Linked DNA regions of Homo sapiens. The protein of the gene in region 1 interacts with the protein of each later gene in a pairwise test. Each region holds a gene or a part of one and is shown on either strand. Other genes may lie near its edges. The genes, in order: SPTSSB, SPTLC2, SPTLC1 and SPTLC3.

Region 1 (4,927 bases):
ACATCACATTCCTTGCACATCACCCCCCTGCTTAGTGTCCCTCAATTAGAGACGTTTGAATCCTGCTCTACTGCAGCTGGAAGAGCTATGTTCCCTTTGCCCCAAGGACTTCATCATCCCCAACCACCTGTCGCTGTCTCTCTAGCACACTAGTGTTTTCTTTTTAAACTTTATCACAATTCATAAATATTTTGCTTGCTTGTATTTTTGTTGTTGTTGTCGTTATCTTGCCTACCAGATACTATCATTAATAACTCCAGAGATGTTTCTGCTTCTGTCTCATTCATTTTCATTTTCTAGTACCAAGCCCAAAGACTAGCACATGGTAGGCTTTTATTCCCTATGTATTTTTTTAAAAGTTTCAAACATAATGTTAACAGAATTTGACAATTAATGCCTGTATACCTAGCATCTAGTTTCTATTGTTATGTTTTCCTCATCACATATTTTTTCATTTTTCCATCCTTGTATCTACCCATCAATACATGGTTGACTTTTAATAAATTTATTGAATGAATGAATAAGTGTTACTCTTTTAGTCCATAGTCAGGAGCTGTCCATCTTTTGGTTGGCCTAATACAGACACTGAGCTTCTTTGTTTTTGTGTGGTCACAAGGTAGAAGGAGCTATATAATGTCCTCGTGGGTGGGAATTTGCTAAGCCCTGTATCAGGAGATTCAGAAATAAGGACAAATCTGCCTTCTAGAATCACCCCAGTAAGAGGATCTAAATATATTTGTGATGGAAGAAGAAAAAAATAGGAAATGTGGATGAGTGTTTTTTTTCCACAAACAACTTAATGAAGATTGGTTAGTCCTATCTTGATATTTAAACTGCCTGATATCTTGACATTTTGTGTTTTTTGTTGCACAAGCAGATAAAAGTAACTGTTGACTTGGCCAATACCAGGGAAAGAACATTTTACAATTTCTCGTTCGGTGAGTGACAAATGCAAGCTCACCGGAGCCATGGAACCTTTGGCCTTTCTTGTTTTTAAAGTTCTGTACACATCATTGAAATATCCAAGTAATGGAAGCAAAGGAAAAACACACAAAAAGTGTTTCTAATCTAGGCAAACTGGGGTCAAGGTAAAGAATGTCTCTCTCCATGTCTAGAAAATAAACTTAGCAGGCAGGGAAAGTAATGCTTACTCTTCTTTCCCACTACATGCTGATTGATAGGTTTTTTTTCCCAAACTATTTTTGATTATGTTTTTTGGACCCTGTATTTATTATTTTGACTGCTCAGAAGAAACACCTTCGAAGTGACATCCTGGGGTGGTGCTTTGCAATAATCTTTTATTAAGCTTTGCTGTGTCTATTCATGTTTATTTTAACTCTCTTATTTTTAGATGGAGGATTTTTTGAGAAGGTCAATGCAGTATCTTTGTGATTGAATTCCAGGAGTACTTAGCAGGGGTCCATGTATATAAGGGTGTTGAATCATTATGAACTGGGAATGCATCCAAGTTCATGCTTAACTGAGAATTCTCTTTAAATATTTAGAAGTGAAAGCAATCTTTCAAAATAGTCATGTGGGCCTTGGAAGCATAGAAATGGGTGAACACAGCATCCTAGGTACAGCAGCAAAGGTGACAGCTGGGACCTCAGCTTATCATTCCTCCAACCTTGGCTGTCTCCTAACGCTCTTCCTTCTATTTGATGGAGTTCTACTTTCAAACGTTGGTGACACTCATCCCATCAACTTTCATCTGTTCATTTTGTCCTCCCCTGGGCTTTCGTGTGCAAAATATTTGCAGGGCCCGGTGTGGTCCTGACCTGGATTTGCATCCTTGCTATGCTACTAGTAGCTACTAGTAGCTAATCGACCTTGAACAAGAAATGTAACTTTTTCAAGTTCCAGGCTCTTTACCTGTAAGTAGGAGACCTTTATACCTACTCCAACATGGAAAATGTGTCCAGCATGGAGAAGTCCCTTGATAAATGTTAGGTTTTTGTTACCGTTTTAACACCAGTTACCACATTGGATTACTAAAAAATGATAAGCTGGGGAGAAATATGCAATGTAACATCTAGATATTTAGTGCAATATGAATAAAAAGTAAATCTGGAAGTAGATATTTACTTACAAAATTAATTTTATTTTGCAAAACTCAACAAATACATGTTCAGATCTGGTTTCTCTTCAAAACATGTGTTTGTTTTTTTAACAAACATGCAAGTTAATTTGGCATGCCAAACATCTTTCTCTCTAGCTCACCTTGGAAAAATTTTTTTCATAACACAAACAAGGGTGCAAATATTGTCCAAACCTATTTACATTTTTACCCTCTAGAATTACATACATTAATATTTATTGGGAGGAAAGCAAAACTGCAAAACGTAGTCTTTGGCATTCACATTTGCTTCAGCAGTATAATTAAAACCTTATATTTGTTTTAAAGATAAACAGTTTGAAGGAAATTTAATAAATCTTGTTTTGGCTCTGCAAAGGAGCCACTATATCAAAGCATTTAACTGGAGCTGTTGAGTTCCTGCTGGTAGAATATTACTTCCAGCCTATTTATTAGCTTGTCTTCCGGTGGCCCAATACATGCTTTTTTCCCTCTACACTGAATGAAAGTACAAAAAGAAAACCATTTCTTTTCTCTTTTTCCCCCAGCATCATGCAAGGCAAGGCAACACCACAAATACAATAACTGAATTTACTTTGATTATACTTTAGTTTCTTACACTTAAAATTATTTTGTATTATAATACTTACTTGGTTATCTAAAATCAACATTGTTGATTTTAAACGGTTATAAAGCCAGACTTTAAGAAGCATTTAAAACAATTCATGAACTCTGTATGAAAGGAAATAATTGCCTCCAGCTTATTCTTTTGCATTTGAAGTAAAAGAATTTCCAGTATCATCAGTTTACTAGAAAATAAGACTTAGGGGGTCCATATAATTTATTCACATCTTTTTATACATCGTAAACAAGGATAGGATACTTCTGACAGTAGCCTATAAAGATTTTTTAAAATTTATCCTTTAGTATAGAATAAGTGTCAAGGGAGCACTTTAAGCATGATTCTGGTAGGTCTGTTAGGAGTCTATTTTCCAGAAAAATTTTGTAGGAAATTGTTCTGATTTTAAATAAACTAAATTCATAGATTTGTGTTGACAGAATATGATTTGTGAGGTAAAGTCACTGTATTATCTCCGGTCTAAAGCACAATGTAGCATGTGCAAAAGAAACTAAAGAGACATGTATTTCAAACTCCAGGCAGAAAGGCAGAATATAAGAGTGCATAGAGAAGAGAGTGCTTTTCAGGTCAGATAGTGAAGGAAGACACAATAGTTACCTAAATCAATAAGCTGTAAGCAACATATAAATATGCAATGCCATTTCACTGAATGTGAACAGGATCAATTAGAAATTGTACTGTGATATCCACATATTTTTGAGAAAAATTCCCAAGCCAGGCGAATGTGGATTGGAATAAAGACATAGGCAGTGTATACCACCATAGCAATAATGGTTAGTAAGATGGTGTTAAACATAGATCGCTCCCAGGGCTCTAAAACAGCACAGCAGCTAATGATTTGGTATTGATAGTAGAGCCAGGAGAAATATTCCTTCACACGCCTCAAATCCATGGTTGGCTCCTTCAAGCTGCAGTAAGTTTGTCCTGTTAAAGAATGTAACAGATTAGAGGATGAGGAACCAAACATAGAATCACTTTAAAATTTCATGATCTCAGCATGTTAAAATCTTTCAAAGATTTGTTAAAGATCATTGAATATATTATTAATATATGAATATTCTGTAAAATAATACATACTATATTAACTATAAAAATTAATAATATTGTCACCACTACTAATAATCACTACTAAAATTGGCAGCAATAATACTATTAGTAACAGTAACATCTATCTAAACATGACAATTGTTAGAAATAACTTTAGTGATAATGGTACCTAAAAATTGAGGTTAGCCTCATTTTCCTGAGCCATGTATACAAAGAGAAATAAAAGTGAACCTAAGCACAGCTCTGAGGAAGAGACTTTTGAGATAAGGTCCAAGGGATCATTATGAGTCAAATGGATAGAATAGACAGTGAAGTAGGGAGAACAGCCAAGACAGAGGGAACAATATGTACAAAGGTTGGAGGTGGGAAGAAGTAGGTTGCTTTTGAGGGGCCACGGAGGGAGAAGGGAGCAGGGAGTGTGATGACACTGAAGAGGTGGGAATGGCCACAGTGAGGCCAGAAGCTGTAGGGCCTAGTTGGATAAGTTAACTGTTTTATCTTCAACCTCTGAGTTAGGGCAATGCTGTGGTGGGTTTGAGAGGAGGAGGCTTTAAGTTCATGTGGTAATGCTGCATTCTGGAGTCAAGTTGAAATGACTTTGGAGCCCAAGTATTTCAGAAAATCTGTACCTCTACTCTTCCCTAGGGCATTACTGTTTCAGAATCAACAGTATACTGAGAACCTGTTTAAAATATTCTTAAATACTCTTCATTTTTACAAATGAGATAATATTGCTTATTTAGAAATATTATTAACTTTTCTCTATATGTTGTGGCTATTTATTTATTTATTTGTTTTTGAGAGAGTCTCACTCTGCTGCTTAGGCTAGAATATAGTGGCACAATCTTCGCTCACTACAACTTCCACCTCCCAGGTTCAAGAGATTCTCCTGCCTCAGTCTCCTGAGTAGTTGGGATTACAGGCATGCACCACCATGCCCGGCTAATTTTTTTTTGCATTTTTAGTAGAGATGGGGTTTCACCATGTTGGCCAGGCTGGTCTTGAACTCCTGACCACAGGTGATCTGCCCGCCTCAGCCTCTCAAAGTGCTGGGATGACAGGCATAAGCCACTGTACCCGAACTTGTTGTGGCTTTTACAAATGCACTAATTGTCGGGCTCGGTGGCTCACGCCTGTAATCCCAAAACTTTGGGAGGCCAAGGCAG
Region 2 (8,707 bases), on another chromosome or scaffold:
TTAATGTCTGCTTTCTTCTTTGTAACTTAAGCGATGACATAAATGATGCTCTTCAGTGCTCACACTAGGCTAATCTAAGCTTGAGTGTTTTTCTGTGATCAACTTGAAATTATCTACATAAAGAGTATTAATTTTGACTTATTTGTGGCCAACTTATATAGAGTAGCTTCCCATGAATGATGGATATGTTAGTATTCTGATTCTAAGGACATTGTTAGCTATCTGTATGTCTGGTTAATTTGTCATAAGAACTTATGTCATGTATCATGCTTGGACTTTTAAAAATATGAACTTGCTGATTTTATAATCTATATATGAAAATTACTGCAGCCTTTTCTATTCATGAGTATTCATGGTTGAGAAGATTCTAAAACAGTTCTTAGCCCTTTCCAAGCAGATCTTTTAAATTTATTGCTTTGCTCTGTATAACAGAACAGTTGTTTGGATATCTTTTCAAAGATTGACTTACCATAATGTCAAAACCTGCCCAAATATTTAGTCAGTTGGCAATTGCAGACAGAAACGTGTGTTTTAATCTATTTGTGTTTTAGGGAAGATGAGCAAAATAGGATTAAAGATACGATTTTATACTATTACAGATATGTTACTGTTGTCTGGTAAGAATTTTAAGGAAACAGGCTAGGCGCGGTGGCTCATGTCTGTAATCCCAGCACTTTGGGAGGCCAAGGTGGGTAGATCACTTGAGGTTAGGTGTTCGAGACCAGCCTGGCCAACATGGCGAAACCCTGTCTCTACTAAAAATACAAAAGTTAGCTGGGCGTGGTGATGTGCACCCGTAACCCCAGCTATCAGGAAGCTGAGACAGGAGAATCGCTTGAACCCGGGAAGCAGAGATTGCAGTGAGCCAAGATCGTGCCGTTGCACTCCAGCCTGGGCGACAGAGTGAGACACCGTCTCAAAAAAAAAAGAAAGAAAAAGAAAAAAAGAATTGTAAGGAAACAACAAAATGAAACTCAGAAGATGAAAATTTGGGGGTCTAAAGGCTTCATCTCTGGTCTTATGTGTAAAATTTATTTGCAGCACAGTTAATTAGAATGAATCTTAAAGTTAGAAGATGTAAATTCTAGTTGCAGCTATGCCACTTGCTACTTGTAATGTGCCACACACTATTGTGCAACTGTAGGCATGTCACTACCTTGGTGAGAGTCTCCCCACCTATAATATGAAGATAATCATAAATATCCTGCCTACTGTCAAGGGATTTGTGGAGTGCTCAGTGAGGGGGTATGGCTGAAATTCTTTGAGGATGCTAACGCTCCATTAAACGTTTTTTACATTATTATAACTTCTGCTGTTAACAGGTAGAATGACAGAATACAAAATGAGACATTTTACATTTATATTCCATATGGTTTACTCTGTAAAATATTTTATGGTGAAATGGAAAAAAACGAAACAGAACTGATTAGATAGAATGGAGATAGAGGAGATTTACTGTCTTTTTTCCATTCCTTTTTACTTAGGATTATTTTGTTTTCTCTCACCGTGACTTTCCAGGTAAAGAGTGTGTACAACAGTTAGCTGAAAACACCAGGTATTTCAGGAGACGCCTGAAAGAGATGGGCTTCATCATCTATGGAAATGAAGACTCTCCAGTAGTGCCTTTGATGCTCTACATGCCTGCCAAAATTGGGTACGTTTTGTTGCAGATCACAGACCAGTCTGTCCTTATCCTTATCTGTGATGTGAGACCAGGGCTTATGTATTTTGTTAGGGAAAATGGTCTTGTCCTTACTGTGTTAACCTTCATTTGGTACATATGCCATAGATCAAATAGTGGATTCCAAATTGTAAAGTATGTTAATTTGTTCTTCTTTCATTAAACATTTGAGTTTCATGTACTCTCTAGGGGCCTGGGATAGATCAGTGAATAAAATACAAACATCTCTGTCCTTGTGGAGCTTACAGTCTAGTAGGGGGCAACAGTCAGACAGACATAATAAACAAATGAACTGTGTACGATGTTAGAAGGTGTCAAGTGCTATGGAAAAAAATAGAGCAGGACCTATATGGGGAGTTGAGAGTGCCCTGTGGGCGGGCCGATAACACTATTAAATAGGGTGGTCAGGGTAAGGAAGCCTCCTTGGGAAGGAAAATGACATCTGAGCAAAGATTTGAAGGAGCTGACAGCCACTGGAGAAAGAAGCATCTGTGCAAAGGCCACAGTACAGAAGCGAGCTTGCTTAGCTGACGGAAGAGTAGCAAAGAGGTCCCTGGAATTGGAGCACCGTGCCCCAGGGCGAGCAGTGGGCCATGAGGTCAGAGAGGTTTTATCAGAGTGTGTTATTGGATACTTACCAGGTGTGCAGATTACACCAGCTTCTTTGGTTTGTATGAGGCATACATAATGGAAAGCCCTGCCCTAGGATAGCTTTCAATGTATTTGAGAAGTCCAGATGTATAATGAAACCAGAAGACATTTGAAAAGCAAATGAACAGTAATTATACTGAACAAATTTTATTATATGCAAAGTGGCCCTGAAGATGTAGAATAAAGGAGTGACCTGCTTAGTATAGGCTCAGTAAGAAAGGCACATCTTGTTGGATGGGTGAGTTTTGAGCTGGATCTTAAAGCATTTCTCCAGTTTGATTGAACTCATTGAAGGAGCAATTTTTGTAAATTTTTGAATCCCCAGTGTCCACCACAGTCTCCGACACTCAGTAAATGTTTACTGAAATGAATATGGGAGAGGAAATTAAATCAGGGAACCTGGAAGTAATGTGATTCAAAGAGAATGAAAGGGAAGTAAGGAAAAGGTGCTCCCTGAGAGAAAAAGAAGAATTTGGGTTTCAACATGAAGTCATATGGGCAGTTGGTATTATGGCTTCAGAGGGGATGGGGAAGGATTTTCTTCATTCTTCTTTAAGTGGAATTCTCATAAACAAACATGAAGAGTTATCAGATCCAAAGGACTCAGTCTAGAGCTCTCTTTAAAGAAGGCTGTGTCTCCTTTATTCTACATAGGTGCAACTGACTGTGTACACTTTAATTAGGAAAGATTTAGAGAAGGTACAGGACCCAAAAGGGCACAAAAAAGCAATAACTACTAAATATAAGGAAAACAACTCTGTATACAGCATGTATAAAGAAAAGCAAGGTATATTTGGGGAGATAAAAGTTGTAAAGGCATTAAGATGTGTGTTTGTTGAGAAAAAATAAATTTGTGCATTTAAGAAGTTAAAAAAAAAAGATTTAGAGAAGGTAAAGAATTAGAATAAGGCACTAGACAGTTTGGGAGCATGTGCTGAAGATACAGGGCACCCAGGTTCATGCTGACACAAAGGAGGTATGTTGAGGAAGATGTACTGGTACTACAGAGAGTGGGAAAAGGCTGTGAAAAGACTGGCATTAATGTAATGCCAAATGTGCAGGATCTGTATAGCCCAGGCTGGAGTGCAATGGCGTGATCTCGGCTTACTGCAACCTCCACCTCCCAGGTTCAAGCAAATCTTGTGCTTCCGCCTCCCCAGTAGCTGGGATTACAGATGTGTGCCACCACACCTGGCTAATTTTTGTATTTTTTAGTGGAGATGGGGTCTAACCATGTTGGCCAGGCTGGTCTCCAACTCCTGACCTCAGGTGATCTGCCCGCCTCGGCCTCCCAAAGTGCTGGGATTACAGGCACGAGCCACTGGCCCGGCCACATTTTTTTATTCTCAAACAAATGCTGTAAACAGCTTAAAGGAAAAGTTGAAACATAAGGGAGGTCAATAAGAGGAAAAGACAAAAAGCAACATAATTTGGGCCAGGCACAGTGGCTCACACCTGTAATCCCACTTTGGGAGGCCGAGGTGGGTGGATCACAAGGTCAGGAGATCGAGACCATCCTGGCCAACATGGTGAAACCCCGTCTCTACTAAAAATACGAAAATCATCTGGGTGTGGTGGTGCACACCTGTAATCCCAGCTGCTCGGGAGGCTGAGGCAGGAGAATTGCTAGAATCTGGGAGGTGGAGGTTATGGTGAGCCAAGATCGTGCCACTGCACTGCAGCCTGGCGACAAAGCGAGAGACTCAAAAAAAAACCCACATAATTTAGTAGACAAAATTAACTAAAAGTTAGAATGTGTTATTTAGACAAGATACAGATGTGGAGTAAGGCCACAGGGCCTCCAATTTGGCTTACGATAGGGGTGGGGGATTGTTAAATACGAATTGTGTGGTCTGAGTAATCAGCTGAAGCCAGCGGGTGAACTGGCCTGACAGACACCAAAGGAAGCCCTGAATTCTGAAGCAGTGTTGTTCCCAAGACAATTAAAGAAACGTGTGATCTGGAGAGCTCATGCCAGTCAGCCATTCTGCTAGCAGAAAAGATGTGCCGTGTTACAGCAGATCCCCCACAGCTGCAGAATCCTCAGAATTTGCGGATTAATGTTAAACTGCCAAGCTTAACATTTCAAGGACCAGATTTTAATTAAATACAGGTTCATTTTGAAGCCTCTGAACCACTATTACATATCAGGGACACTTTTTTTTTTTTTTGAGACAGAGCCTTGCTCTGTTGCTCAGGCTGGAGTACAGTCGTGTGATCTTGCCTTACTACAGCTTCTGCCTCCAAGCTTCGAGAGATTCTCATGCCTCAGCCTCCTGAGTAGCTGGGACTACAGGTGCATGCCACCACACATAGCTAATTTTTTGTATTTTTGGTAGAGACGGGATTTCACCATGTTGCCCAGGCTGGTTATTTCAGTTTTGTGAAGGACACCATATAGGAGAAGACTGCTTTAGGATTGACTTTAAAAGTATTTGTGAGCTGTCAATTTTAACTTTAAAAGGAGTTAAAGGAAACTCCTATTAGAAGTCTCCAATGCCTGCATCACCAAAGAGTTGAAATCTTTGAGGACAGCAGGTCCTCTGTAATGAGTGCTTTTTCACTCCTCCTGGTTTCTGTTCTTGTTTTCCCCTTTGCAGCGCCTTTGGACGGGAGATGCTGAAGCGGAACATCGGTGTCGTTGTGGTTGGATTTCCTGCCACCCCAATTATTGAGTCCAGAGCCAGGTTTTGCCTGTCAGCAGCTCATACCAAAGAAATACTTGATACTGTAAGTAGGCACTTTCACCTTGATATAAATATGCCTTTTATTAAAAGGGCCTGTATATTAGATGAAATTCATAATATATTGATCTTGATGTTCTTGTGAGCACCTAAGACAGAGGGGGTGACAGTGCTACCAAAAACATTGGCATTTACAAAAAAACTGTCACCCACCACACCTGCATCATGAGAGCTCTGGAGAATTTTCCGGCTTTGTCTTGCTCTACTGTCTCCCTCACTATGGACTCTACAATTCTCTTTCCACTCTAGCTATTTCTACATTAAGCTTTCTCATATGTTGTTCTGTCTAAAATTTTCTCTCTTGAGCTTTCTCTCCCCTCTGCCTGGCTGACTGCCACTCATTCTTCACATCTCCATTTAAAGGAAAATTGCTCAGGGGCGCCCCACACCTTCTTGCTCTGTGTTCCCTTGGAATCCTGAGATTCTCCCTTACTAAATTCTTCACACCTATAATTATTTAATAGCAGTCTTCTCCATTAGATAAATATTGAGGATAGGAATAAGTCTGTTTTACTGATTCTATATCCCAGCACCCACCACACTGCCAGGCATCTAGTTGGGGATCATTATTACTAAGCTTAATTATTTATTATCTCAAGATATTCTCATCTCTATATATTCTCTTAATATGTTATTGTTGCAAGTCTAAGATTTCAGAGTTTAAATCATTATTGCCATCTGGGAGTTTATAAAGCTTTAGAACATGACATTTGCATAAAATTAGTTGCTAGAAATATCCATTAATGAGTTAGAGAGCTACTAATTTTTTTTTTCTTTTTTGAGAGAGAGTTTTGCCCTTGTTGCCCAGGCTGGAGTGCAATGGCGTGATCTCAGCTCACCACATCCTCTGCCTCCTGGGTTCAAGCAATTCTGCCTCAGCCCCCTGAGTAGCTGGGATTACAGGCATGCGCCACCATGCCCAGCTAGTTTTGTATTTTTAGTAGAGTCAGGGTTTCTCCATGTTGGTCAGGCTGGTCTCGAACTCCCGACCTCAGGTGATCCGCCTGCCTCAGCCTCCCAAAGTGCTGGGATTGCAGGCGTGAGCCACTGCCTGGCAAGAGCTACTAATCCTAAAGAACATTATGAATGCTTCTTTATAAAAGTTAATTATAACAATTTGATGGACATTTTGTATTCCTGAATAGCCGAAGACTTGACTTTTCTTCTCTGTTTCTACACAGCAAAATTTCTATGAGTATAAGTGTATTCCCTTTTAAAAAACAAAATTGTAGTAAGAACACTTAACATGAGATCTGTCCTCTTAACAAATTTTTCCATGTCGAATACAGTATTGTTAACTATAGGCACAGTGTTGTGAGCATATTCTTAATTACATTCTGACAATATCCAATTAGATTCAACTTTTTGATATTGTATCTTTTTTTTCTTTATTTTGATTATGCCTGTCAGATTTTTCCAATGGATTTTTCTCATTTCTCAGAAATTTTACTGGTGAATTTCTGTGATGATTTTTTTTAACCTAGAGATTTCAGCTTTTCTTTCCTTCCTACTCTATTGATGTTTTAAGAATTTTCTTTTTTCTTTCTCATGTTCACCTGTTAACTCAGAATTTCAATGTGCCTTTAAAAAAAAGTCTGTGTAACTATAACCAGTGTCTATGGCAGTAATCCATGCCTTCTGACCACAACTTTGACTTCTGAGAACTGTACACATTCATGAAAGAATTTAGATGTAACCAGGATATCTCCTTAGGATATCTAAGGAGATTTCTGTTGCCAACAAGTATGTTTGCCAACTGAGAGTTCTAATCCTTTTCATAAGATTCTCTTGAGGGATTGTTGGGCTTTGCCTCCCATTTAGTTTTTTAAAGCATAAAGTGCATTTTTTGAAACCATGGATTTGTTAAAGTCATTTTGTCTTATGATGTTTTATGGAACTAAACGTGTACTAGACCATTATGAGATACAAATTAATTTTCATTTAATAATGGGCCTCATGACATGATTCTGTATATAGAAAGTGCTGTAAAATACACACACACACATGCGCGCGCGCGCACACACACACACACACAGCTAGAGCTCATAAATGAATTCATCAAAGTTGCAGGGTAAAAGATCAGCACACAAAAAATTAGTGCTTTTATACACCAGCAATGAACAAATGAAAAGAAAATTTCTTTTACAATTTTCAAAAGAAGAAAATACCTAGTAATAAACTTAAGAAAGCCTTTCCTGGCTGGGTGCGGTGGCTCACACCTGTAATCCCAGCACTTTGGGAGGTCAGGCGTTTGAGATCAGCCTTGCCAACACAGTGAAACCTCATCTCTACTGAAAATACAAAAAATTAGCCAGGCATGGTGGGGGGCACCTGTAATCCCAGCTACTCGGGAGACTGAGGCGGAAGAACCACTTGAATCTGGGAGGCGGAGGTTGCAGTGAGCTGAGATCGCACCACTGCACTCCAGCCCGGGCGACAGTGCGAGACTCTGTCTCAAAAAAAAAAAAAAAAAAAAAAAAAGCCTTTCCCTTGTACACTGGCTAATTTACACTTGTACACTGTATTTTTAGATGTGTATATTGAAAACTATAAAACTTTGCTGAAAGAAATTACAGAAGACTTAAAGAAATGGAATGACATCCTGTGTTCATGGATTGGAAGATTTAATATTGTTAAGATGGCAGTATAGCAACCTACAGATCCTGTGTTCAGCATTTCTCAGAAAAAAATGGACTGGGAGACCCTAAGCCACTGGCCCTTTTTTGCAGAAATTAAAAGGCTGATCCTCAAATGTATATGGAACTGGCAGGGAATAGCTAAAATAGTACTGAAAAGGAAAAGCAAAGTGGGAGGACTCACACTTCTTAATTTTAAAACAAAGCTAATTACTACAAAGCTACAGTAATTACAACAGTCGAGTACTAGCATAAGGATAGACGTATAGACCAGTGAAGTAGAATTCAGAGTTCAGAAATAAAGCACAAGCATCTATGGCCAATTTGTTTTCAACAAGGGAGCCAAGACCAGTCAATGAGAAAAGAATAGTCTCTTCAACAAACAGTACTAGGTCAGCTGGATGCAGAAGAGTGAAGTTTTAACCCTACAGCATGGATAAACCTTGAAAACATTAGGCTAAATGAAAGAAGCCAAAACAAAGACTACATAACTTACAATTCCATTTATAAGAGATGTCCAGAACAGGCAAATCATAGGGTCAGAAAATAGATTGGTGGCAGCCAGCCTGAGAGGAGGGGGAGTGAGGATTGAGACAACGAGTATTGGGTTGCTTTTTAGGGTGATAAAAATACTCTAAAACTAGATAGTGACAAAAGTTGCACAACTCTGTGAATATACTTAGAAGCAATGAATTGTATACTTTAAAAGTGAATTTTGCTGAATGTGAATTGTATCTCAAAGCTATAATTTTGTTATTTTTTAAAATGGGAAGCGCAAGGATATTGGCTCAGGGGAGCGGCAGGATGGCTGTCCTAGAGGATTCGGTTACTCAGCTCTATAATGAATACATGTTTTTCTCCTAGAAACCCACCTTACCTGTGATCTAGAGGTTCTGTGTAGACTGTTAATGAATGGCGATGCATGTAATGGCTGCCTGTCCCTAACATACCCAAATACCCCACACAAGAGTCAGCACTCATTAGAATGTCATCTT
Region 3 (9,167 bases), on another chromosome or scaffold:
GGTGGATCTCAAAAAGGCATGCCTATGTCCTAATCTCCATGTGATGGTTAGTTTTAGGTGTCAACTTGACTGGGCTAAGGGATTCTCACATAGCTGGTAATATTTATTTCTGGGTGCGTCTGTAAGGGTGTTTCCAGAAGAGATTAGCATTTGCATTCATAGACTAAATAAAGCAGATTGCCTTCACTAATGTGGGTGGGCATGATACAATCCATGGAAAGTTTGAGTAGAACAAAAAAGCAGAGGAAGGGTACATTTCATTCTGTGTAAGCTGGGACATCCATGTTCTCCTGCCCCTGGACTTTGGTCCTCCTGGTTCTTAAACCTTTGGGCGAGGACTGAATTACACCACTGATGTTCCTGGTTCTTCAATTTGCAGATGGCAGATTGTGTGACTTCTCAACTTCCATAATCATGTGAGCCTTTTTTTTTTTTTTTTGAGACAAAGTCTCGCTCTTGTCCCCCAGTCTGGGGTGCAGTGGCATAATCTCGGTGCACTGCAACTTCCGCCTCCCGGGTTCAAGCGATTCTGCTGCCTTAGCCTCCCAAGTAGCTGGGATTACAGGTGCGTACCACCATGCCCAGCTAATTTTTTGTATTTTAAGTAGAGACGGGGTTTCACTATGTTGGCTAGGCTGGTCTCGAACTCCTGACCTCAGGTGATACACCCGCCTCAGCCTCCCAAAGTGCTGGGATTACAGGCATGAGCCACTGCGCCTGGCCAAGCCAATCATTATAATAAATCTCCTCTTATGTAGAGATCTATATATGTTTTATTTATCCTGTTTCCCTGGAGAGCCCTATTATACCCCAGAGCATGTCAATGTGACCTTATTTGGTGGAAGGGTCCTAACAGATGTAATGAAGGATCTCAAGATGAGATCATCCTGAATTATCCAGGTGGGCCCTAAATCTAATGAGAAGTGACTTTATAAGAGACACAGAGGAGAGACACATACAGGAAGAGATGGCCATGAAAAGATTAAGGTAGAAATTACAGTGATGCTGCCACAAGCCAAGAATTCCTGGAGCCACCAGGACCTGGAAGGGGAAAGAATGATTCTCTCCTAGAGCCTTCAGAAAGAGAGTGGCTCTGTCAATACCATGATGTTGGACTTCTGATCTCCAGACTTTGGAGAAAAAAATTTTGTCTGTTTTAAGCCACATAGTTTGTGGCAATTTGTTATGGGAGCCCTAGAAAACTAATACAGATTTTGGTACCAGGAAGTGGGTGCTACTTTAATAAATACCTCAAATTGTGGAAGTGACTTTGGAACTGAGTAATAAATAGAGGTTGGATGGTTTTTGAGGTACTTGAGAGAAAAGTCATAGAATTTCTTGAAGAGACTGTTAGTGGAGTTATGGATTTTAAAGGCAATTCTGGTGAGGGAACAGAAGGAAGTGAAGAGCATGGTAGAGAATTCTTCCATCATCTTAGAAATGTATATCTCATCATGAGCAGAGTGTTAGTAGAAATACAGATGTTAAAAGTGGTTTATGTTGAAGGCTAAGAAGGAAATGAGGAACATGTTACTGGAAACTGAAGGCAAAGTGATCCTTGTGACACAGTGGCAAATAACTTGGATGAATTGTGTCCTTAGGTGGACAGCAGAATTTGTAGGCAATGAACTTGGATATTTAGCTGAGGAGATTTCTAAGCAAAGTGTTGAAGATGCAGCCTGGTTTCTTCATGCTGTTTGTAATGAAACAGAAAAGGAAATAAGCAAATTGAGGAAGGAGCTGTTAAGCAAAAAGAAACAACACTTGATGATTGGGAGCTTCTCGGCCTATTCAGATTGCAAAAGATGCTAAAATTGGGAAACTCACTGTTGGGAAAGTGTACTCTGGATACAGGGCCGAGGGTGTGCCTAGACAATATTGTGCTGAAGAGATCTGCTATACAACTGATGGATCCCTCAATTATCTCACGGATCCAAGGATAGATCCAGCGTTATCCAGGAAAGATCTGTGGGGGTTCTTTTATCTAATGGCATGGATCCCTGTGACATACATGGGAGCCTCAAAAGTTCTTGAGAAGGTTGTACCAGAAGAAACACTGTCAGCTTGGCCTGAAGGGGCTGAGACAGGACAAAGTGAAAGAGAGGCTGTCAGATATGCACAATTCTTCAGGCAAGAAGAGGACTGATAGAACTACTCAGGTATCAGCATGTGCTGCCCTTCAAGAAAAAGGAAGAATCACTATGAGGACAGGGTCATGGGCACAGGGGTAGAGGCTGAATGTTCAAGAGCAGAGACCTACCAAGTTGCCATGAGCAAAGAGGCCTATGAAGCCATGAGCCCAAAAGACACAGCTTCAAGCCACAGAGGATTATTCCCAGACCTTGAAACCAAATGACTTTGCCTTGTTGGATTTCTAACTTGCTTGGGATTGATGACCCTTTTATTCCTTCTAATTTCTCTGCTTTGCAGTGAGATTGTCTATCATATACGTGGCCCACCTTTGTGTTTTCGAAGCAGGTAACTTCTTTTCTAGTCTCACTAGTCAATAGATGCAGAGGAATTTTGCCCTTGCATAGCTCATACCCATAGACTCACCTACACCTGATTATTTATATGTGAATATTTGAGACTCTTTGAATTAATTTTTATGATATTTAGGTGAGAGTTAAGACTTTTGGAGATGTTGAGACGGAATGAATGTATTTTGCACATGAGGCAGATGTGAATTTGGAAGGCCAGAGGTTGGACTATAGTAGGTTAAATGGTAGAGCCCAAAAAGACATGTTAACATTCGAATCAGGGAATAGAACCTGGGAACATGGCCTATTTGGAAAAAGGTTCTTTACAGATGTAACTAAGTTAAGGCTCTCGCTGGAAGAGGCAAAAAAAGTCTTCTCCCCCCAGAGCCTTTGGAGGGAGTATAGCCCTGTCAACACCTTAATTTTGTACATCTGGCCTCCAGAAATGTGACAGAATAAATTTCTGCTGTTTCAAGGCACCCAGTTTGTGATCGTGTGTTACAGCAGCCCTAGGAAACTGATACAGAGGCCAAGCAAAAGTTCCAAATCAAGCAAAGTCCCACGGTGTATTCCTTCCAGTTATCCCAAAATATAACAATCCCAAAACAGTGGCTTAGAACAATAACAATCGTTTATTTTTGCCCACACATTTGGGTGTCATCTGGGCTTAGCTAGGCATACCTCACTCAGGGTCTCTCAGTGGTGGTAACCAGATGGTGGCTGGAACTGGAGCCACCTCGAAGGTGTCGTCCCTCACACGTCTGGTACCTGGACTAGTAAGACTCAAACAGCCAGGGACTGGGGCAGCTGGGGCCCCTTAGTCATCTCTTTCCCCTTCTATGTGGTTCTCACATGATCTTTCTACATGGCAGCTGTATTCTCTTATAGAAGCTGCCACAAAGATATGCCTTTTGATGAGTGTGTAAAAGAATTTGCAGATAGTACCATTGACTCAGAATTGCAGAGAGTATGGTGAAGTTCACCCCTCAGAGTTGTCTTGCTAAGTAGGGCAAGGAAGCTGCAATATTTATATCCCAGCTACCATCAGTAATCCACACTGGTAAGTACTGCCCAGGAGAAGATACATTCTCAGATACTTCCAACTCTCCAGGAGAGCAGGAAACGTGGGAATGGCAGCCTTCAAGGGGGTCCTCTGAGAAATGCAGGCGTGGCTGCTGGAAGGAAAGCACCCGGGGGAGGAAATGCACGCAAGCACAGGACTGTGAGCAGAGCACTGACACGGACTCCATATCGCCAGCTTATGTGGAAATGTAGCACATAGTGTAGCGGCATCATTATCTGGGGTAATACCTGAGGTTCATTGTCCCACAGCCATGGAAAACTAGGACGCGACACACCACAGTGAGGTTAAGAGCAGAAGTTTAATAGGCAAACGAAAGAGAAGAGCTATCTGTGCAGAGAAAGGGGTCCCAGAGAAAATGGGTTGCCAGTTCTGCGGTGAAACGCACAGGGTTTTATAGATGAGCTTGAGGAAGTGGCGTTTGATTTACGTAGGGAATGAAAGACTGGTTGGACCAGGTGTGCCATTTGCATAGTGCATGAAGAAGCTGGCCTTCCCACCCTAATATTTTATTCTGCAGATGGCTTCTCTACCTGACTGATGCCATGTTGCCTGTTCCTTCACTGTACACGTGGTGACAAAGAAAATGGAAGATGGAGTCTCCATATTGAACATACCTGGCTTCCAGGTAGTCTTTTTCTATCGGCACAACTGCCAGCATTCTCCCGTGCACTGCCAGCTTGCTTATCTATGTTTGTAGCTCAATTTTTCAGGCTGCTCTTTGCAAAAAAGAAATAATTTTGGGGTTGCTTTTTGTTCAGAAAGAAGCTCTGCTGAGGACTCTCTTACCTTCACTATCTGCCTAAATAATTTCTTTTTGGCTCCTGTATCAATAGCACTGGTACCATTTCAGAATTCTGGGGAAAGTCAGGGTTACTCAAATAAATGGCACTCAAAAAATTGTTATTCCTTTAGAAAAAAACATAATTAAGTCCCTTAACTCTCATTATCCAAAAATATAGTTTCCAGAGTAAAGAGCTAATTGCAAATAACAACAAACTGCTGCAAGAATGGTTGGAAACCATAGATGTGGTGAAGAAGGCCTTTCTAAGCAATATGCAGATCCAGAGGCAAAAAACAGACTGAAGCACTACATAAAATTTAAAATTAAAGTATGATGAAAGAGCAGAAACAACTAGGCGGCAACTGAGCAAAAATATTTTTCACATATGAAACAGAAAAATATAAGATATTCAGAATGTATAGAGTTCCTACAAATCCATAAGAAGGCAAAAATAACCAATAGAAAAATGGATTAAGAATATGAATTGGCGATTCATACAGTCTATAAATGCCAATAAACATATAAGAAGCTGCACAACCTCATGAGTAACCAGAAGCATCAATAATAAAGGATAGTGAGGTATCATTTTATCTCCATTAAACTGGCAAATTTTTTTAAAAGATTGATAATATCCATCATGGACTAGAGCATAGAAAAACTTCCAAATTATTTTAATTGGTTGAGCCATTTTGGCAGTACTTATCAAAATTAATAACGTGCATAGTCTTCAGATATATCCCATGTTGAAAAAACTGGTCAGAAAAACTCCAACATGCACAGAAAGATATACACACAAGGAACATCGACAGTTATGGCAGCATTATTTGTAATAGGGGAAAGGTGGGAACAACATAAGTATTCACCAATAGGGAAACGTTTACATAAAATGGAACGATGAATATACATAAATTATTCCATGGAAGTCTTCAGCCATTAAATATGAGATATATTAGGAAAAAAATGCTAGAAAAAAAATTTAAAAAAAGTTGTAGAAAAGTCTTGTCCCTATGATCTCAATTATATTTAAGAAATCCAATCCAATTAAGTATGTGCGCGTGCATACTGTTTGCATATGCATTGGAAGGCTCTAAAAGGTTCTTTACCAAACTGCTATATGATTTAATACCTGCAAAGCCTTGGCCTATGTCTGACAAAACAGGAAGTGCTATATGGGTTGGCTATTTTTGTGTATAATTATGCATTTCTTAATGATAATGCATTGCTGGATTACTTATGCTACTAAACGTAAACGTATTGGCCAGGCGCGGTGGCTCACGCCTCTAATCCCAGCACTTTGGGAGGCCGAGGCAGGCGGATCACCTGAGGTCAGGAGTTTGAGACCAGCCTGACCAACATGGAGAAACCCCGTCTCTACTAAAAATACAAAATTAGCCAGGCGTGGTAGCCCACGCCTGTAATCCCGGCTACTCGGGAGGCTGGGGCAGGAGAATCGCTTGAACCCGGGAGGCGGAGGTTGCGGTGAACCGAGATCACGCCATTGCACTACAGCCTGGGCAACAAAAGCGAAACTCCGTCTCAAAAAAAAAAAAATAAAGTAAACGTATTGCAATCATTTTAACTCTCTGCGCCCAGCTGATGACCAAGTGTAAGGCCCGTTCATTACTACTTTCTCCATCCTGAATCCAGCAGGGAGGGTAATAGGACACAAGGTAAACAATTCTTGGAAAAACTGCGGCATCCCACCTGACCCCGTCCAGCCTCCTGTCAACCAGTGCGCAAGTGCGAGTAGGCGGTGCCCAGCGCTCCGCCGCCCCGCCCTCTGCGGAGGTGATAACGACACTGAGCAGCGACGCGCACTTTTGGGACGCGCTTGTGACCCGCCTTCCGGAAGGAAGCGGCTAACTATGGCGACCGCCACGGAGCAGTGGGTTCTGGTGGAGATGGTACAGGCGCTTTACGAGGTGGGCTCCGCGCCATTAGCGGTCCGCGACCACACCCGGGCCCGGGGAGGGTGGGAGGACGCGTGTGGATTTGTGGCCTGAGACCTCGGCGGGACTGGCTCGGTCACGCCCAGACTCGGTGCCTCTTGCTGGAAGGACTGCCGGGAGCTTCTAGTCCCAGCGGTTGAGTGTAGGGAGGAACGGGCGGGGGCGGGGGCTGGGACTGAGGGTCTCGGTTTGAATTCTTATGCTCCGGGTCCCCTGGAAGCTCCGGAAAGGAACACGTGTAAGGGGACGCAGGAGACAGGTCTGCAAAAACCAGAGTTTAGACGGACGATAAAACGGAGTGGTGAAAATGAGTGGAACACCTTCGTCTGGGAAGGTCCTAAGGAAGTCAGCTCTTTGGAACTACGGTACAGTTCGTTGGGGAATAAAATTGTAATAAATTGGAGTTTGTTTTTGTCGAAAAGAAATCAAGTGACTTAGGATTTGTGAATAAAAAATAGTTTGTCATTCTTCTGCGTACATCAGTTTTCTGTCTTATAAAGATACAACTAGTTTAGTCGATTTTTATTTATTTATTTTTGTTTTTTTTTTTTGAGACGGTGTTTCGCACTTGTTGCTCAAGCTGGAGTGCAAGGGCGTGATCTCGGCTCACTACAACCTCCGCCTCCCGGGTTTAAGCGATTCTCCTGCCTCAGCTTCCCAGGTAGCTGAGATTACAGGCATGTGCCACCATGCCCGGCCAATTTTGTATTTTTATTAGAGACGGGGTTTCTGCATGTTGGTCAGGCTGGTCTCGAACTCCCGACCTCAGGTGATCCGCCCGCCTTGGCCTCCCAAAGTGCTGGGATTATAGGCTTGAGCCACTGCACCTGGCCGTAGACTTTTAAAGGAAGAATAGTTAAGAGTTTTTTGAAGCCTAGTTATTTCAGATACATAAGATAATAAGAAACCAGAATGTCAATCTTAGTGTTCATTCATTTAATAACTGAGAGTCCCCGTGCTGTCTTGCAGAGCTATTCATTGGGCACTGAAGAACTTATTTTATTTTATTTTATTTTTTAAAGACAGGGTTTCACTCTGTCGCCCAGGCTAGAGTGCAGTGGTGCGATCAGCTCACTGCTGCGTTGACCTCCCAGACTCAAGCGATCCTCCCACCTCAGACTCCCGAGTAGCTGGGACCACATACCACCATGCCCAACTAATCTTTTTTTTTTTTTAATAGAGACGGGGGCTTGCTGTGTTGCCCAGCCTGGCCTCGAACTCCTGGCCTCAAGTAATCCTCCTGCTTTGGCCTCCCAAAGTGCTGGGATTACAGGCATGAGCTACCACACCCAGCTGCAACTGAATTTTTAATTTAACTTAAATAGCCACGTGTAACTTAGTGACTGTCCACATTGGACCACACAGATCTAGATGCTAGGGATAGTGCGGTGAACAAATAGGCAGAAGTCCCTGTGCTTAAAGAGCTTACATTCATTTCAAGTGAATTTCACTTTACTTTTGATGATTTAATATCACCAAACTTAATATCACCGTCTACTGGTAGGGGTAATGACAGTGTCTTCCATTGCAGGACATACTGGGAATTTTATCTTGAAACAGCAGAGACAGCAGATGTGGCTCTGTCTTATGCTCATGTATTAAGTGATGCCCAGTATTAGGTTAACTGTAGTGACCTAAAATGAGCCACTAAAATTGAATGATCTTTTTTATAAATGATTTTTTAAAGAAATGGATTATTTTCTGTTAAATGTTGTTTGCTCCCTTTTTGAAGACTGACAGTAGTGTAACTTCTCATTCCCCGAAACTGTCCAACAGTGAGACTTGGGAGAACTCCTGTATGTAACATTTCCTGGGAAGGAAAAGAAGTGGTGTTTGTGATTTTTATTAATTCACTAGAGAGAGAGTTTCTCAGCTTTTCTTAGGGTGATTTCTTTTTGGAGTGGGCTCTTAACTAGTGGCTGGGGCAGATGTTTGCTTGCTAGAATCCAACTATTGAGAAAACTAAAAGGGTATTTAGACTTATTCATAAATGAATTGTATTTAGGGGGATGAGCAAATTTTAAAATTCATCATAAACTTCTTACTCCCAAATCCTATGCGTGTTGAATGTAGAATTTGAGTAGTCTTGTATAGTGTACCCAAAAAAGAACCACTGAAATTAAATAATCCGATGGTTAATATTGGGATTCTGTGTTAGATTTTATTTATTTATTTATTTGAGACGGAGTTTTGCTCCTGTTGCCCAGGCTGGAGTGCAGTGGTGTGATCTCGGCTCACCACAACCTCCACCTCCTGGGTTCAAGCGATTCTCCTGCCTCAGCCTCCCAAGTAGCTGGGATTACAGGTATGCGCCACCAGACCCAGCTAATTTTGTATTTTTAATAGAGACAGGGTTTCTCCATGTTGGTCAGGCTGGTCTCAAACTCCCGCCCTCAGGTGATCTGCCCACCTTGGCCTCCCAAAGTGCTGGGATTACAAGTATGAGCCACCACGCCTGGCCTAGATTTTATTTTTTTAATTTTAATTTTTATTCCCAAAGAAGTTTTAAAAGCTAAAAATATTAGGGGTTTTTCATGTGAGGGAGAAATTGCCTGCTATTAGAAATGGGGAAAGGAATGAATAGAAATTAAGGGAGCTTCGAAAGTAAATTGTTAAGAATAGGCTAAAAGTCACAGGAGGCAGTATATGCAGGTGTAGTAAATTTTATGTGCAGGTGTTAGAAGTGTATGTTTCATATCTTACTTGTTTTTGACTCACTCTTAGGCTCCTGCTTACCATCTTATTTTGGAAGGGATTCTGATCCTCTGGATAATCAGACTTCTTTTCTCTAAGACTTACAAATTACAAGAACGATCTGATCTTACAGTCAAGGTACGAAATTAAATCTCTGTTTTAATTATTGGGTATGTGAT
Region 4 (8,707 bases), on another chromosome or scaffold:
AGGGCAAACGAGGGCTTATTGTCCCCTCCATGATGGGAACGAAGTTGTCTTTACTCTCAAGTTCCTTTGCCACCAGTTTTGATCCTTGGGACCCTTTAACAAACTAGGCCTAGACCAAAAGCCTTGCCTGTGGATAGAAGCAGTCTGCAAAGGCTTACAGAATCCTAGGCTGCTGGTCTCCCAAACACGTTCTGCCTGGCCTAACGTCTTCTGCCGCAGCATCTAAGATCCTACCAGCCCCTCCAATGATCCTCCCACCCTTTCTCTTCCCACTTATTTGCAACCACACAGCAACACAGTTATCTCTTTTATACATTAGGGGACCCTACAAGATTCTGTTGACAAAGGGTTCCCTGGCATAACAAACATATGAAAATTACTATTAGGCGGTGCTCATGAGTCCTCCTTCCCCCTGGTCCAGCGTAGGCTGCCATCCCTGCTCCAGCCTGCAGCAGGCTTGCTGCCCCAGTCTCAAGGCTGGCAAGGACCAGAGCCTTTCCATTCTTAGAAACCTTCTAGAGTTCCTTTCTGGAGCTTTTATGGAGCCTGACTATTTTTCCTGTTTTTTTTTTTTCTTTAAACCTCATATGTCCTGAGAATGCACAAAAACTGGTTTTCATCACTGACTAAGTCCATTTATTTGTTTATTCCCAACATGGCCTCCTACCTTTTACTTGTAACAGGACACTATCATACTAGAGGATTTGTTCTCCCTCTTCATGAGCATATCCACACTACAGACAGATGGGTGCTTAAAGTCTTAATCTATAAACTTGATATTTCTTATAATTTTTATTGAATTAAAATTCTTCCTAATGAATAGGAATTTCCTATTCCTTACTTAATTCTATATAATTACTTTGCAACTATTATCCACATAATTGCTTTTTAATTCCCAGCAATTATTTTTGACCTGACCATAAACTTTTATTTGGAAAACCAAAACCTAGGAAGGTAGACCTTGTGTCTCCATTGCATTTTCCCAGAAGTAGTTTCTTAAGAGGATAGAGTCTGCATTTTCTTCTCTTAAACGAAACCTGCAGGATGAAAAAAAAATTGTAAAGTTTTCCTAATCATCCCTTTCCTGGAAAACAAAAATGTTTGGGGATTAGAGTTACTCTAATTCAAGGTTTATTGAGTTCTTGACCTGAATGTTGTAATATTACCAGGTATAGGTTATGAGCCCTAACAGGTGGTTGCTTTTTTTTCACCAATACTTATTAAGCATCTGTTATTCTTAGGACCTATAAAGATAAATAAGAAGTTTACAATTTATCTGTTAGGAGAAAGCTTATATCAACATTAAAATAATCACATCAAAGTTAAATGCTAGTGCAAGGACAAGAGCTGCCATAAAGCAGACATAACTTGAGTACAAATGAGTGGTATAGATACTAGTACTAGAAGTTGGAGAAGAGCAAAAATAATAATAAATATCAATATTCTGCTATGTATCAGGAAGGGCTAAGCACTTCAGGCAGGCATCTCCTGTACCTTCAAAACAGCCCCATGAAGTGGTAGTATACTGTCCATTATACAGATGGGGAAAGATAAATCACTAAGGAACTTCTGAAGAATCACAATCAGCATGGCCAGGATTTGAGCCCAAATCCAAGTTGCTCCAAAGCCAGTTCCTTTTTCAGTATGTTCTAGGAAATCACAAGTTGGGGTGGTCAGTGACAGCTTCTCAGAGCAGAGAAGACTCAAATTGAACCTTGAGACATTATAATTGCAGAAAAAATAGGGAGCTTATTCCTGAGGGGCAAATGAGGAAAAGACAGGAAAGGAACTCCAGAGATGAATGTAGGAGTTGCTAGTAAAGGGCATAAGAAAGGTCATGAAGCATTCCAGGAAGCTGTGAGGCACAATAGGTCATGTGACTTTTGAGAGACTTTTCTCAATTCAGTGAGCCTTCATCGCAGACAGTGAGAAGCAGTGCTGTGGCTGAGGTGGTGCTCAGCAGATGCTGGAAGAAGAGAAAGGATTAAGCCACATTATTATGGAAATCATTTCCAGTTTTAGAACCATTTAAGCTGAACTTCTATTCTCCCCACCTTTCTATATCCTCTTGAAGTCTGCAATATCCTGGTAGAGCTACTCTTCTGCTGTAGTATAAACTTCTTCTAGAGAATAAGAGCAATGACTGATTGATAGTTTAATTGCAAACAGTGGTAGCTGCCTGACAGCCGTGGTAAGTACCTGTGTCTGTGGGGCTCACCTAGGCTACCCCCTGATTGAAATAGAGGTCAATATTCTCTCCAATTACTAGGAGAATTCATAAACTAAAAGTTTTGGAAATCCCTTTCAACTGCTCTGAGTCTTCATCTTAGTCTTGTCTTTGGTGTTCATTTTCTAATGCCTTTGTTTCTTGGCTCCTATTTCCTTAAAACAATCCCCAATGTGGCAAGGCTTCTCCATGAACTCCTTAAGGAATCCGCAGTTTTTCATGAGCTCATCATTTATAAAGCATTCTTGTGTGTCAGGTGCTGCAGTCATTAAGATGAAAATATTCTCCCTCCATTTATAAATAGCTCACAGTATAAATGAGAAAGACAAGCAATTATAGTATTTAATGGTAAGTACTATAGCAAATGTTACAGTTATCTATTCCTATGTAACAGCCAGTCCAAAACCCAATGGCTTGAAACAATAACTATTGGATTGTTCATGATTCAGGCAGGGGCTGCTAGGGATTGCCTTTCTCTGCTCCACGTGGTGTTTGCTGCAGATCAACTTGCCTGAGCATCCAAGATCACCCCATTCACATGTCCCAGACCTTGGTACCAGCTGTTGTCCAAAGCACCTTGTGTCTACTTCACCAGGACACCCTCTGCATGTGGTCTCATTATTCTGCAGAGTAGCCCAGGCTTTTTTACAGGATGACTGGCTTCTAAGAGAGTAAAAATAGAAACTACAAGACCTCTTTTATGTCCTAGGGACATTTCTGCTACATTCTGTAGACAAAGCCAGTCATAGTCCAGCTGAGATGCAAGGCGAGGAGAAACAGATGCTGCTTTTTTCATGACAGAGGCTGCAAAGTCACATTGAAAAAGGTTGTAAGGGATTGGAGAGATTATTGTGACCATCTTTGGAAATAGTCCACCACAATAGAAATATATGGACCTTGCATGGGAACACAGAAGAATGTGTATCTGACCTAGGCTGGGAAGACAACTTGCTTCAGAGAGGCATTTGACCCAAGTCTTGAAAGCAGAGTAGCCAGTTGTACAGGCATAGAAAGGCATTCCAGCAGAGGGAAAGGCTGTTAGAAGGATATAAAATATCAGAGCATTATGCCTTTGGCCAATGAAAGATGAGTTCATGGTAGGAGGTTCAGGATGCTTAATGGAAAGAACCAGGTGGGAAAAGATTGTAAAATGCCTTTGTCTTAGTTTACATTCCCCAAGAAACAGACCCAGAGATAAAGATTTGAGTGCAAGAAATTTATTAGGGAGGTGAACCCAGGAAGCACAGAGGAAAAATAGTGAAGTGAGGCACAGAAGGGAAGGAAGCCGATACGCTCATGAGCAAGTTACCATTGTTGGCAACTGGGACTGAGACTTGTCGGGGACATCTGGGAGATGGCGTACAACACATCTCAAAGCTGTCTAAATTTAAAAAAAAAAAAAAAAGATAAATGTCAACCAATTCCGGTCCATAATCAGTTGAGGGATGCTCAGCACTTGTAGACTTTCCACACATGGGCTGAGCACACTCCTATGGCAGAGAAAGCCCTCAAGCTGAGCTACAGGTGCTTGCAGTAAGAAATCACCAGAATGGAAGAAGGTCTGGATGCGCCAAGAGTGTCTTTTATAACCATTTATATGTGCAAGTGATGGAGGTTTGAGAAGGGAATTAGCATGATCAGATACGGTTTCTCCCAAACTGTGTAAGCTTTATTTATGGTGACTCTTAGAGCATGGTTTATGAATTAGCCCTGATCTAATGGGCTAATCATCATACAAGACAGGATTATGCTGTTAAGCAACATAAACAGAGCTTACCCACTGTGTTTGGCAAAGGAGAAAAGGGATATATCAAGGGTAAATATTATTGCCATAATTTGTTCCCTTTGCACTCAAGCAAGATGAAAAACCAGAAACCATGAACAGCTTAGCAAATTTTAACTATATAAAAAAACTAAAACTTAATATGGCAAGAAGCATCATAAAGGGTAATGCATAAAAAGCAATTGGAAAGCATGACTGAAGTAAAAACTCCTTTACAATAGCACCAGAAACATGAAGGACCTGGAAATAGATTTAAATAAAATGAAAATCAATTGGAAGGGAGTATGAAAATGCTACTGAGGGACATGAAAGGAAACTGAAAATAAGTGGAAAGGCATACAACACATGTAGAGGAAGACTCAGGATGAAAAATGCATTAATTCTGCCTAAGTTAACCTATCAGTTTCTGTGTAAGTCCAGTAAATAAATCAACATATTTTTGAGCCAGACAAATGACATTGAAGTTTATGTGTAAAATTAATAAGGAAGAATAATTGGAAAGACTATGATAAATAATAATAATGAGGGTGACTAGCACTACCAACTAGTAAATCATGTTGCTCACCAAAAGAATTAGAATGGTTTTCTATTAGTACATGAACAGATAGATAAATATTATAGGTAATTGTTAATCTATTAAAGTATAAGAAAATATCAATTTTAAAATAATATTTACATGGGAAAAGTCTTTATAACTATGATATAATACCCAGGAGCCATAAAACAGGAGGTCAACAATCTGACTACATAAAAATCAAATATTTATTTCTGCATGGCAAAAACAAAACAAGAATAACACCGTGAAATAACCAAAAGGCAAATTACAGACCAGGAAAATGTTTAAAATTTATATCATAAAATGCAATTTTCTGATTATATAAATAACTTTTAGAAATGAATACAAAAAGAGGCCAAACACCAGAAAGAAAAGAATGGACAAAAGCTATGATGAGGGAAATACAATTTGAAATACAAAAGGTAAGGAAAGGAAGAGAAAGAAGGGAAGAGAAGTCAGAAAAGGGAAGGAAAGGAATATGCTAGAATCAGTTTCCATGAGAAAAGAAAGAAAAGTCCATTTTCTCAGTTTGTGTGCATTAAGTGCAAAGTCAAGTTGAAACTTAGTTTGAATAATCTAGTTATTTTGATCAGTTTAATAATGATAATAGTAAAGCTAATAAATCAATTGTTGATGGGTGCTACATGCCAGGTCCTACTATGTAATTTGCCTCATTGAATTCTTATAGCAGTAATGCAAAGTGGATATTATTAGCCACATTCATACAGATGAGGAAACTGATGCTCTGAAAACATAAATAACTTACCCCAAGGTCACACAACTAGAACAAAACTGGGACATAAACTCTAGGCTATCTACCTTATCCTAACTTCTTACTTCAACAACTGTCGAAGACCCCATGATATTATCTACTTTCTATGATAATAGGCTTAGAGACCTTTATTTAACAACTGAACATAATACCAGTTGTCTAAGGTATCAATAATATACTTTTAAAAAGAAAGGTGCTTATGCTTTCACTGTGACTAAAGATATTGAAAGACATCAAGCTCCAATAGCTAATGCATGTTGGCCTATAGTTAAATCTTTGGGAGGTAATCAAGAACATAATAATTATAATAATCTTTAACATGTCTTGAGATCTTCAAAGTGCCAGGCATTCCCAGTGCTTTATGTTCATCATCTCACAGCATTCCTATGAGGTATTATTTTTGGACCCATTTTATAGGTGAGGAAACAGAAAGCTTTAGTAACTCAACCAAGGTCACCAACTTATAAGTATCAAAACCAGGTATGGAAACCAAGTTTGTTCAATCCTAGAACCTAAGTTCTTATCCTTTAGTCCACGCTTCCCCTGTAAACACAAGATAATGTTAGGCATGGGATTCATACCCACTTCCAGAGAGAAGGGGCCAGCAGACACAGCCTTAAAGGGCAGAGTCAGTGTGAGTTAAAAGAATGGTGAGTTGTTTTGTTTTCCTGATTTTTCATTCTTAATAAAAATTTTAGCTTATCACAAATGACACCAAACTGTCATATATCTGTGCTTTCAATAGGCAATGTTATTCACTCAGAGACATACCACATTAGTGAACCTGTCACCTCCATGCCTCACTTTGAACAACTCTAAGCTAAAGAAAATTGACCTCATGTGACTCTGAGTCATGTGGACTCACACTTAGCCCCAGTCAGAGCTTGAGAGATAGTCTGGCTTTCAGGAGCTTTTTTCAAGAGTACATGGCCTCCCTGAATAGAAACTTCACTTAGTACAATATTTTCTGGCAATACTGATATCTTAGACATGATGCAATAGATCAAGCTTGTCGACATGTGGCCTGCAGGCTGCATTTGGCCCAGGACATCTTTGGATGCAGACCAACATAGATTCATAAACTTTCTTAAAACATTATGAGATCTTTTTTGTGATTTTTTTTAGCTTATCAGCTATCATTAGTGTTAGTGTATTTTATGTGTGGCTCAAGACAATTCTTCTTCCAATGTGGCCCTGGAAAGCCAAAAGATTGGACACTCCTGCAGCAGATGAAAGATAGTTACAAATTCTTTGGAGTATTTCCCATTGAGAGGTAGAATCTAATTCTAATCCACTTGAACCTGGGCTAGACCTAATGACTTACTTGACCAAAAACGTGATGGAAGGGACAATCTGGGACTCCTGAGAGTCAGTTACAAGAAGACTCGCAGCTTGAACCCAGTCCTTGTAGAGTGCCCATTCTTGGAATCCAGCCACCATGCTTTAAGGAAGCCCAAGCAGCCCAAGAAGTTCAAGGAGAGAAACCAAGTATCCTTGCTCTGTTTCTAGCTGAGATGCAGTACCAACTTCTAAACTGTGTGAGTGATGTATCTTGGAAGTGAATCCTCCAGCCCCAGGGTGTGTTTGCTCCAATTGATACTTCATGGATCATAGACCAGCTGTCCCTGTTGGGCTCTGCCCATATTAAAAATTCTTGAGCAAATAAATAATTGCTGTTTTAAGTTTGCTGGTGGCTTATTAAGCAGCAATAAAAACTGAATACATGGATATTATATTTCCTTAAAATGACTAGAAAAGTCATTGTGCAATCTCAGTACCATTTTCAATGCTTTCATTTATATTTACATTTACAGAGTTTGCTTTGACCATGAATTTGCTATTAATCATTGGCAAAGACACATTTTCATAAGTTATAAATTTCTGTTTTGTTTGGCATAAGGACTGTATGCTTAAGCCCTTAACCAGAGATGAGTGTCCGGCTGTAAAAGCCAAACACAATGAACCTAAACCAATGCAAAAGCACACCCATTTGAAAATTGCCAAATCTGAAGTGTAATTATTAACCCTTAGGAGGTCTGTAATTTATTACATTGTCTATGAAGAAATAGTTGACTCAATAAAGTGTGTGTGCTCAGGTGTTTCATTGGCTTAATTAACATATTTTAAGTATTTTTAATATCTGCCAATTACAAATTAATTTTATCTATTGGTTAAAGCTTCCTGGAAAAATTTTCTCTCACTGTTGAGGTAAATTGATATTAACCTAATTAATTGCAAGAAGTCAACTATGCTGATTTTGAAATATATTTAATGTTTTTAGTAAATATGGCTACCTTTGTCTCAGTTGGCCTGTACTAATGTAGTTTTACTGGAATTCTAAGGTATTACAATCTATAAATTTACGACAGAAAGATCTATTGCCACCATATTAGAAATATTTTCCGGTGATTTGGAGTTCAAATTAACTATTTTGGGGGAAAAACACTACAAGCATAGCTCAGAGAAATACTCAAAATTATCCTCCACAATCTACTTCATCTATCTATCACAGTGCCATCTGAATCCTGCTCTCCTGAAGAGTTTTGACATATTGAAGATCATCTGAGCCCAGCGGAGTTTCAGATTGCAAATGCCTAGAGGAGCTAGCAGGGCCTTGTGTAGGACAGTAGGAGATGGTAAGAATGGGTTTAAATGAACAAGGCCTGGTGTTTCCAAGAGACAGAACAGGCTCCATCTTGATAGTTTTTCCAACTTTTAAAAGAAGCTGGAAATCCAAATTGAGGAAAGGAGGTCTCATGATTTCTAAATGTTGGCATCTAATTTTTAAAAATTCAAATCCTGTGGATTTAAAGAAAACATTGCTAACAAACACCAATTTGTAACCTCTAAACTATAGGCAAACAGAGTGTAGGAAATAGGCTAAAAAGTCCTAAGTACAGTGCTATTTTCTCATTTGTTTAGGAAAAATGGCTCAGAGAATTTGGCTCGCCTCGATTTAATTTACTTTATATTTCAAAAAGTGATAGATGAGTCTTCCACCTTCACTTTCCTGAGTTGATATATTAACAATTACCCTAGACTCTGCAGGTTTGAGGAACTCTTATGACCAGCTACATACACTAGATTTCCTTGACTAACCCAAATCTAAAATATTAAGTCCCAAAGTGTTCATCAAAGTGTTAGAGACCTGGTGATATTTATTGACCAAACCACAACTCTCAGATTTCATAGTCAGTGGTGCACAAACCTTCGTTAGATGATGTATTCATGAAGTCTAGTCACCAAGATTGTTCTCTAAATCTGGTCTAACTGGACCTTCAAAAGTTTCCCAAGCAAAAGGCTATGTGCAAGTCTTAATTATTCTCTTACCTATGGGTTATACACAGCTCTTATTTGTCTGTCTTGTGG

What was found.
Region 2: the proteins of SPTSSB (region 1) and SPTLC2 interact in a protein complementation assay, tested with the Homo sapiens proteins (one study listed by IntAct).
Region 3: the proteins of SPTSSB (region 1) and SPTLC1 interact in a protein complementation assay, tested with the Homo sapiens proteins (one study listed by IntAct).
Region 4: the proteins of SPTSSB (region 1) and SPTLC3 interact in a protein complementation assay, tested with the Homo sapiens proteins (one study listed by IntAct).

What each region holds. Positions count from the first base shown.
Region 1 is NC_000003.12:161,342,718-161,347,644, forward strand, and holds the end of SPTSSB (serine palmitoyltransferase small subunit B), read right to left. Parts: intron 3,639-4,927; 5' UTR 3,607-3,638; coding exon 3,376-3,606; 3' UTR 2,081-3,375; downstream 1-2,080.
Region 2 is NC_000014.9:77,514,393-77,523,099, reverse strand, and holds part of SPTLC2 (serine palmitoyltransferase 2), read left to right. Parts: intron 1-1,518; coding exon 1,519-1,654; intron 1,655-4,932; coding exon 4,933-5,062; intron 5,063-8,707. UniProt on the Homo sapiens protein: Component of the serine palmitoyltransferase multisubunit enzyme (SPT) that catalyzes the initial and rate-limiting step in sphingolipid biosynthesis by condensing L-serine and activated acyl-CoA (most commonly palmitoyl-CoA) to form long-chain bases.
Region 3 is NC_000009.12:92,112,414-92,121,580, reverse strand, and holds the start of SPTLC1 (serine palmitoyltransferase 1), read left to right. Parts: upstream 1-6,167; 5' UTR 6,168-6,210; coding exon 6,211-6,267; intron 6,268-6,514; exon of another isoform or gene 6,515-6,659; intron 6,660-9,018; coding exon 9,019-9,126; intron 9,127-9,167. UniProt on the Homo sapiens protein: Component of the serine palmitoyltransferase multisubunit enzyme (SPT) that catalyzes the initial and rate-limiting step in sphingolipid biosynthesis by condensing L-serine and activated acyl-CoA (most commonly palmitoyl-CoA) to form long-chain bases.
Region 4 is NC_000020.11:13,011,174-13,019,880, forward strand, and holds part of SPTLC3 (serine palmitoyltransferase 3), read left to right. Parts: intron 1-8,707. UniProt on the Homo sapiens protein: Component of the serine palmitoyltransferase multisubunit enzyme (SPT) that catalyzes the initial and rate-limiting step in sphingolipid biosynthesis by condensing L-serine and activated acyl-CoA (most commonly palmitoyl-CoA) to form long-chain bases.